Regions from separate parts of the Homo sapiens genome. Here regions 1 and 3 are each linked to region 2. Evidence: fine-mapped expression QTL. A gene starts in region 2. Each other region holds a variant in brackets. All regions are shown on one strand. Distances are from middle to middle.

Region 1 (2,766 bases), 24 kb before region 2:
GGGTGAGGGAAGAAGGGAGGGGTAGGGTGGGCAAGTGAATAGCTCGCGTGTGCGTATTTACAATGTAGTCAGTCTTAGGGTAGTGCAAGAAATCCCACTCCTCTCTCCTTCACTTAGAACCATACCTAGACAAACATGGCTATTTCAATTTAGAAGAGGATTCTTCCATTATTTGTGGATTCTTCCAGCATTACAACAAATCCTAGTATTCTTGTAATAGTTTAGATGTCCAGTGGATTAGCGTTTTTATCAGAATGTAATTAATTATGAAAAGAAATACTTAAAATTCAAGAATTCCAGAAGCAGTTGTGGGCTTTACGTTTCATTGAGTATTAGGATAGAGAAATCAAAAACAAGCATAATGATCTTTGATTTAAATTACTATCTTTTTAAAAAAAGAACTTGCTGTTGATTCAAAGTTTTTCTTCAGTACTATTATGCAAAGTGGTAAAATAATGCTATTGTCAGAAAGATACTAATTCTGTTTTTTTTTTTTTGGATGGAGTTTTGCCTCACCCAGGCTGGAGTGCAATGGCATGATCTTGGCTCACTGCCACCTCTGCCTTCCAGGTTCAAGTGATTCTCCTGCCTTAGCCTCCGAAGTAGCTGAGATTACAGGTGCCCGCCATCACGCCCAGCTAATTTTTATATTTTTAGTAGAGATGGGGTTTCACCATGTTGGCCAGGCTGGTCTGGAACTCCTGACCTCAGGTGATCCACCCACCTTGGCCTCCCAAAGTGCTGGGATTACAGGCATGAGCCACTGCACTCAGCCACTAATTCTGTTTTTACCAAGACTTTATAGAAAATAAGATAGGACAGAAATAAGGAATTGCTATTTTTGGTTTACTATTATTTATATCAAAGGCATTTTAATAATATAATTAAAGCCATATGATTAATTTGACCTTCATAATAAAAAAAGAATCTAAAACATTTTGCAATCAAGTTAGCAATAGATAATACTACAGAGATAAATGAGGTTAATGATTAGAAGGCAAATAATTTGTCAGTAAGACATCTGCCTTTGTACAGCTTAGTTAGAGAAGCATGGTTTGACAATTTTACCCTTTGGGGTAAAATTCTGAAATAACTAAAATTTTTGAAAATAGATATTATTAAGCTTTAAGTAAGTTAGTGATTGATTTTTAGATCTTTTTTTTTTTAATCACAAATT[C/A]TTTGCAGCAGACAGGTAAAGTGGATAGGAAGGTCTGTGCCCAGGTTTATCAAATGTTGCTTCTGAGATGATTTATGGTGTAATGTTTCCTTGGCAAGAATACTCCTGGACTGTTTCTTTTCCACCAGGATTGTTAGTAATATTCAGTGTTTATCCCCTACTTTTACAGATGCTACTGTTTATCATGAGGACGAATATACGTTCCACTCACCAGTTAACCACTTGTCTGCAGCTGCCAGTATTGCATCCTTCTGGTTACTATAGAAATCAATAACCCTAGAAAAAGAAAACAATGAAATGGATGTGCTCAGTACATTGATTGCAGAAGCAAAACAGTCTCCAGAGTCCAGGCTATAAGAATTTGTTTTCTATCTTGATTAAAATGTTGAATGCTTGATAGAAGAATGGAGCATATTTGTTTCACTTGTCTGGTGAAAAACTTTTAACTGCTGTGTTTTTTCCTTCATTGTAGAATAATTACAAAATAAAAATTCATAAAGAGAAGTCCATTTCTATGTAAAATATGGAACCTAGAAGTAGCAGGATCAATCTTTGTGTTTAGTTGTCTAAATACTGGTTCTCATCACTCAGGATAAAAGACAATACTATTGAAATAATGAATCACCGGTCTGGGAATGCGAATACCCCATTCCTCCTTATTTCTAAATGTCCTAGGAGGTACCATATTTACACAGCTAAAGTAATCCATAACTTGTACCAATATACAGACTATTTAGGGAAATTATGTTCACCTTCATCTTTACTTGAGCCAAATCCCGTGTCATGTATCCTTCACAATTAATCATTATTAAATAAAATATTTATATGTATGAAGTTTACCCATTACATCATTTAAGTAAGTAAATCTTAACCTGGTGGGAATTTTGGACTACCTTAGGAGTGGGTGGACACTGCTTTCAAACCACACCTTGGATGCTGAGAAGACTTGCTAGGTGAAGAACTAACAAAATGAATAGACTTTTGACTTATAATAGACCGTTCCTATTGTCTCTCCTTTCCGAGGATACTTAGGAAGGAAGAATAAATCAATACTGTAGGTGATCTGTACTATGTTCACTGGGCTCCTGTTTTGTTCATAAATATTTAAAGAAATGATACAATACCTGTCTACATGAGCCATGAAACCTTCTTCTCCCCATTCGTGTAGAAGCTGTGATATCATGAGCTAAAAGAGATAAAATCATAAATACCATGTTTCATCCCCTGAAAATGTACTTTTTGCCATATATAAAAGCAACTCACTTTTGATTACATGTAAACCACAATAAGATATAACAAGCTGAGCCTAGCTTATATAGTCAGTGATTTAAAACAAATGTCAATTAATAACAATGATAATACTAGTAAAAATAACAAATATTGATATACTATTTGTTATGTAGCAGGCACTGTTGTAAGATACTAATATATTTTACCAAATGTAATCTCTATAAATTTCTATTTTACTAATGAGGCACAAGGGTTAAGTTAACTTTTCTGAGTCCCACAGCCTGAAATCAGTCAGGCTATCCAGCTCCTGACCCGCGCTGTTAATTGCCATACTGTACTGCTTCTCTAAATATAAAAAT
Region 2 (2,766 bases):
AGAGGGCTGAGGGAATGCCCTTGGCCCTTCTGCCACGTGAGGACATAGGTTCTCCCTTCTACCACGTGAGGATGCAGCAAGATGGCTCTGTCTATAAGGAAGGGCTCTCACCATGGTGACACAGAAGCTGCTGGCACTTTGATCTTAGACTTCCTAGCTTCCAGAACTGTGAGAAATAATTCTATTGTTCATAAATTACCCAGTTTGTGGTATTTTGTTATAGCAGCCTGAATGGACTAAGACAAAAGCTAGTCTAAAATAAACATACAGAATAACTTTTTCTAGGCACCTCACTTGTGGAGGGACTAAAGAATGAAGGTGACCAAAGAGAAGGCAGAGGGATCAGAAAGACAGCAAAGGGCCACAATAGCAGAAGCCCTCCTCCACTTAGCCCCGACCTGTCTGTGAGCTTCATGGCCCACCCCTCTCCCATTTACCTGGCCCTCTCCACTGTACACCCATCTGCACGCTGTGCATGCCCCTTCTCAGCTTCCCAGGAAGAGCCTTTCTTGATAGCACGCCCCCTCCCTTCCAAGGCCGTGCCCCACAGCAGTCTGCGCCTCTCTCTACTGTTGCTCCTACTCTGCTCCAGCAGAAATACCCGCCTTCCGTTTCAGCCCGAGTTCTTTGAGAACAAAGGCTGTGTCTATTTCATTTCTGCACGCAGAGCCTGGCTCACCGCGAGCGTGCACAGGGGTACGCATGGATGCAACCAAGCGGTGGCTTGCTAGGGAACCCTCCTTAGAGGCTGTGCGAGGAATGCCCCACCCCAAAGGAGAGATGGTCACCCCGTTTCTCACTCATGGTCCGGATGGGAGAAGGGTTTCTGGCTGCGCTCGCTGCCGTGATGAACCGTGCGTAATTCATGTCTTCTGACAGCCAAGCATCAAGCTTCTTCTTCAGTGGTTGAGGACTAGAAAAACCAAAGAGCCTCGTCAAGTCCTGCCTGCTAACTCCTCACTCTGGCAACGCCACCGCGAGATGTGTCCCCCCGCTGCGTCTGGCTTCCCGCGCGCGGTGCCCGGAGAACGCCGCCGAAACTCCCCGGCTGGACGCTGCGTTCGGTCTCCCGGTCCTAAACGGGTCTGGGGCTGTGTGGCGAGCCCGGCAAAGTCCACGCCGCACGCGCTCCTGCGGCCGCCAGGGCCCAGGCCGGTTTTGCCCCGCCGCGGGCCTCGCCGCGCCCCCTCCCGCCCCGCGCCGTGGCCTATGGCCGCCCGCGGCGCGCGCCTCCCCGTCCCGGATCATCGCCCTCAGAGCGCAGGGCGCGGGGTAGCCCAGGCGCGAGGCGCTTGCAGCCCCAGGCCAATGACTCTTGACCTCGCCGCTGGGAATCACCGCAACCCGGCGTCCGCGTTGGCCGGCCTAGGCGCCGGCCCAGAGGCTAGCCCAGGGGCTGACCGAGGGGACCGGAAGTGCCCGTGATCCTAATCCTCGGGAACCATCTGGCGGCGACTTGGGTCCACTGCAGGGGGCTCCCGAGCTGCGCCCAGCCGGGAGCGGCCCCACCCTCGTTCCCGCGCGCTCCGCTGGCCTCCTCTCAGTCACTGGGACTGTGCATTTTGCCCGCTCAGACCATGGCTATGCTAAATACCCATCTTTCGTTAGTGAAACTCTGGGCACTCTCCTGGGAAGCATCCCGGCGACCAAGACGAATTTCAACATCACTTTCTCGAAGATCTCAGCATTTTGGAGTGACGATGGAGTTCTGACAAAAATTTTTGAAAAATCACTCTGAGTCTCTTCAATTTTAGTGTCTACCCTCACATTGAATTTCTGACCTTTCGTTAAATAAGAATTATGTTGGAAGTGAATATCCGGATCTTTTTGGGTCTAGCACCTTGCCTTTTTTTTTCTTACAAAATAACCCTTCTTACTCCCCACCTCCCTCAACTTTTCTGCAATTTCTCCTTCCTGAATCACCAAAATGGAATGTACAAGGTTTAATGTGAGCACTTAATGAGGGAAGGGTTTCAGACAACCTCTCTTTGACTTTAAAAAATTCTTTAATGGTTATTAAAATGAATGAACAGATTCATTCATTCAGCACAAATTTACTGAGTACTTCCTAGATGATTATTGACTCACTGCCAAATGGCTCTCTTTTAAGTTTACCTAATAGGTTGGTCAAGGAGCCACTGCTTTTATCTAGGTCCTGGCAGCAAAAGGCTGAGATAACCCAGTAAAATCTTTGTGCTAGCAGCTAAATAACAAAAAGGAAGTATTGAGAGGTGACAGCCTGCTGGCAGCCCTCGCAGCCCTCGCTCACTCTTGGCGCCTCCTCGGCCTCAGCGCTCACTCTGACCGCGCTTGAGGGGCCCTTCAGCCCGCCGCTGCACTGTGGGAGCCCCTTCCTGGGATAGCGGAGGCCGGAGCCGGCTCCCTCAGCCTGCGGGGAGGTGTGTAGGGAGAGGCACGGGCGGGAACCAGGGCTGTGCGGGCGCTTGCGAGCCAGCTAGAGTTCCGGGTGGGCGTGGGCTTGGCGGGCCGGCACTCAGAGCGGCGGGCCGGCTCCGCCAGACCCGGGTAGTGAGGGGCTTAGCACCCGGGCCAGCAGCTGCGGAGGGTGTGCCCAGTCTCCCAGCAATGCCGGCTCACCGGCGCTACCTTCGAATTCTCGCCAGGCCTCAGCTGCCTCCCAGCGGGGTGGGACTCGGACCCGCAGCCAGCCATGCCTGAGCCTCCCCACCACCCACCCGTGGGCTCCTGCGCTGCCCGAGCCTCCCTGACGAGTGCCGCCCCCTGCTCCACAGCACCCGGTCCCAT
Region 3 (2,766 bases), 51 kb after region 2:
ATATGAAAATTCCCTAACACATATAAAGGATATCGTTTATCCACTGGAGTGTATAGATAGGATAATTTTTCTAAAAATATAAGATCTCTCTCTTAGAAAAGGATAAATACATTCTGTGTTGCTTCTAATGTTTGTCAGGGGAAGGAGGCCACATTGAGTTCTATTGTGAGAAAAGAAGCAGAATGAGAATGAGGTCTTTTGCATGGAAGGGATAATGAGAGTTTGGGCAGAGCAGGAAGAGACTACTAAAGAGGGGACGAAGTCAGCAAAAGGATGGACTTGGCTAGGGAGAGCCTGTATTCATGCCCCTGAGAGGTCTGAGCGTGGTTGATGACCTGGAATGGGTGTATTCTTTGTGTCCAAACCTGTGGCTCAGGGATGACCTAGCTGGGCCAGCTGTCCTCATTAAATAGTCATTATTTTTATTAAATGGAGGATCGTGCTTCATTCAAAGTCAATAACAGCTAGTATCAATGACTAAGATATTGACTGCCTAGTAGTAGCAACATCCCTGCCTACACCCAGAGATATTATCAGCCAATTACCTCATCATCTGGTTATGGGGGAATCTGTGTTCTGCGCCATGCCTTGAGCATGACACATATTTTGGCAAACCTATGTCTAGGTTTCCTTTCTGCAATACCATATGAAATAGTAAACTCGAGTGACCACTGGACTTCTAATGGGATGAGCAGTGTGGCAGAAGTTTCTGTTTTGCTAGGACCATCCTAACCTAAGAAAGTCATGAAGTAAACTCCACAGTATCGTGTATGAAATTCTATGCTAGGCATTGTAGACTAAATAGAGATGAATAAGACTTGATTCCTTATGTCTGATTCCTGTTTATGGGGCAGAATGGATACTATGGGTCCATGATAAAGTGTCAGGTCAGGAGGGGAATACATTGGGGTAAGTATTTCCCTACTTGAGACAGTAAATGCAAATAAGGTTTTGTAAGTCCCTTTACTCTTAAGGTAGGGCTCAACTCTGTTTTAATACATTTCTGACTTCTGAGTTCATTGGTTTATGTGTGAAACAAAAAGATTACTTTCTTAATTTCTTGAAAAAGTCCAATATCATCTGTAAAGTCTTTTGTTGATGTTATATGATATCACACAGAGGAAGAATTATGGGTTGGATCGTAATACTATTAGCTTGATGAGTTTCTGGCTGAACATTGAACCACACATTGCTAATCTGATATGTTTTCTGCTGGTAAATATCAGAGCCTTGTTGTGGCCCGTATTCTGTTCAATACGTTCATCAGGGATTTGGATAAAGATATGAAGGACACACTCACCAAACATGTGGATGACACAGAGTTAAGAGGGTTCATGAAAAAAAACCCTAAATGACAGAATCAGATGAAAGCGGTCCTAACATGATAGAAAGATGAACCAAACTCTAAAAGAAGTGTGATAGAGATAAACATTAAGCACTATATATATAATATATATATATATATATATATAACTTTAGTATTGTTAACCAAAATAAACTAGGTTCCTGCACTAGGCCTGACAGACCAAACCAACATAAAGTTGAACTCCAGGAGCTGAGCTTTAGTTACTGCAGGAC[G/T]CTCCGTAGCCAGTTAACCAATGAAGCTGTATCCAATTCAGTTTTCTGTACACCGTACTTCTGTTTCCTATAAATGCTGTCAGATCATGTTATTAGTTGGAGTTCTCTGAACCTGCCCTGGTTCAGAGGACTGCCTGATTTGTGAATCATTTTCATTCTGTTTTTACTTTGCTTTGCTTTCCTCTGCTCAAATAAAGTCAGTTAAATTTAAATTTGGTCTAAGGTTTTTCTGTTTAACAGCATTGTTGAATCTTAACATTAGAAGTATGACAAAACAAAAACAAGCAAAAACGTAACAGAATATAATAGTTCAAAACACAATATTTGGTATTACAGTGAGACATGGTTAAATAGGTAAGGCATAAATCTCTCTCTGTGAGTTCTAGATCAGCTTATCAAGATCATTAAAATAGCAACAGCCTGAATCCTGAACTTTCATTTTGTCTCTTTGGAAACTGTATTTTTGACATTGACAGGCTTAAGGCAGCCTTATTTATTCTGAAAATAACTAGACAGAGAAGTCTTCATGAGCAAGAATATCTTAAACTTTCATGATTCCAGCTAAGAATAGCCTGTCTACAGTGTGACATATTGGCTACATTTGTCAGCCTTTTTATTCATGAGGATAGTCACACACTTTTAAGATCACCAAACAAAACCACCCTATCCATCCATTGACTTTCTTTCTCCCTTTATCACTCAAAGTGAATTCAGCATTGAATTTGTTTACCTGCATTAGGTAACAGTTTTGGAACCGGTTGCATGAGGGGAAGTAATGATACAGTTCTTTCATTCTATAATATTTTTCGTGAATCCACTGCAGTGTTTAGGGTTATCCATAGGAATGTTTAAAAGAGGTTTTCTGCAGCCGGGTGCAGTGACTCATGCCTGTAATCCCAGCACTTTGGAAGGCCGAGGCAGGTGGATCACCTGAGGTCGGGAGTTCAAGAGCAGCCTGGTCAACATGGTGAAACCCTGTCTCTACTAAAAATACAAAAAAATTAGCCGGGCGTGGTGGCGAGCACCTGTAATCCCAGCTACTTGGGAGGCTGAGACAGAGAATCACTTGAACCTGGGAGGTGAAAGTTGCAGTGAACCGAGATTTCACCAATGCACTCCAGCCTGGATGACAGAGTGAGACTCTGTCTCAAAACAAAACAAAACAAAACAAAACAAAAACTGTATCCA

Alleles and levels. Positions count from the first base shown, and alleles are read on the strand shown. Sizes are in standard deviations (SD) of each study's normalised expression. Not every link is listed here.
For the expression in prefrontal cortex of the gene that starts at base 1,133 in region 2, allele G in region 3 goes with a higher level than allele T (moderate effect, 0.59 SD a copy in ROSMAP).

What was found. PIP is the estimated chance that this variant, and not a neighbour inherited with it, causes the effect. A credible set is the group of variants that fine-mapping cannot tell apart.
Region 1: its variant is the best candidate, but not a certain one, in a credible set for the expression of AADAT in tibial artery (GTEx, PIP 0.68).
Region 3: its variant is the best candidate, but not a certain one, in a credible set for the expression of AADAT in prefrontal cortex (ROSMAP, PIP 0.68).

What each region holds. Positions count from the first base shown.
Region 1 is chr4:170,065,026-170,067,791 of GRCh38, forward strand. AADAT (aminoadipate aminotransferase) reads right to left here. Exons shown (of 13, transcript NM_016228.4): 9 at 2,302-2,363; 10 at 1,389-1,453. LOC107986326 (a long non-coding RNA gene) reads left to right here. Exons shown (of 2, transcript XR_001741918.2): 2 at 1,347-1,681. Among named protein-coding and RNA genes, the nearest start is that of AADAT, 24 kb to the right of the region's middle. The variant C/A (reference allele first, on the strand shown) is at 1,178.
Region 2 is chr4:170,088,824-170,091,589 of GRCh38, forward strand. AADAT (aminoadipate aminotransferase) reads right to left here and starts at 1,133. Exons shown (of 13, transcript NM_016228.4): 1 at 801-1,133. The coding sequence starts at 867. RefSeq lists a silencer at 355-649 and an enhancer at 2,549-2,766.
Region 3 is chr4:170,139,384-170,142,149 of GRCh38, forward strand. No RefSeq gene overlaps it. Among named protein-coding and RNA genes, the nearest start is that of AADAT, 51 kb to the left of the region's middle. The variant G/T (reference allele first, on the strand shown) is at 1,579.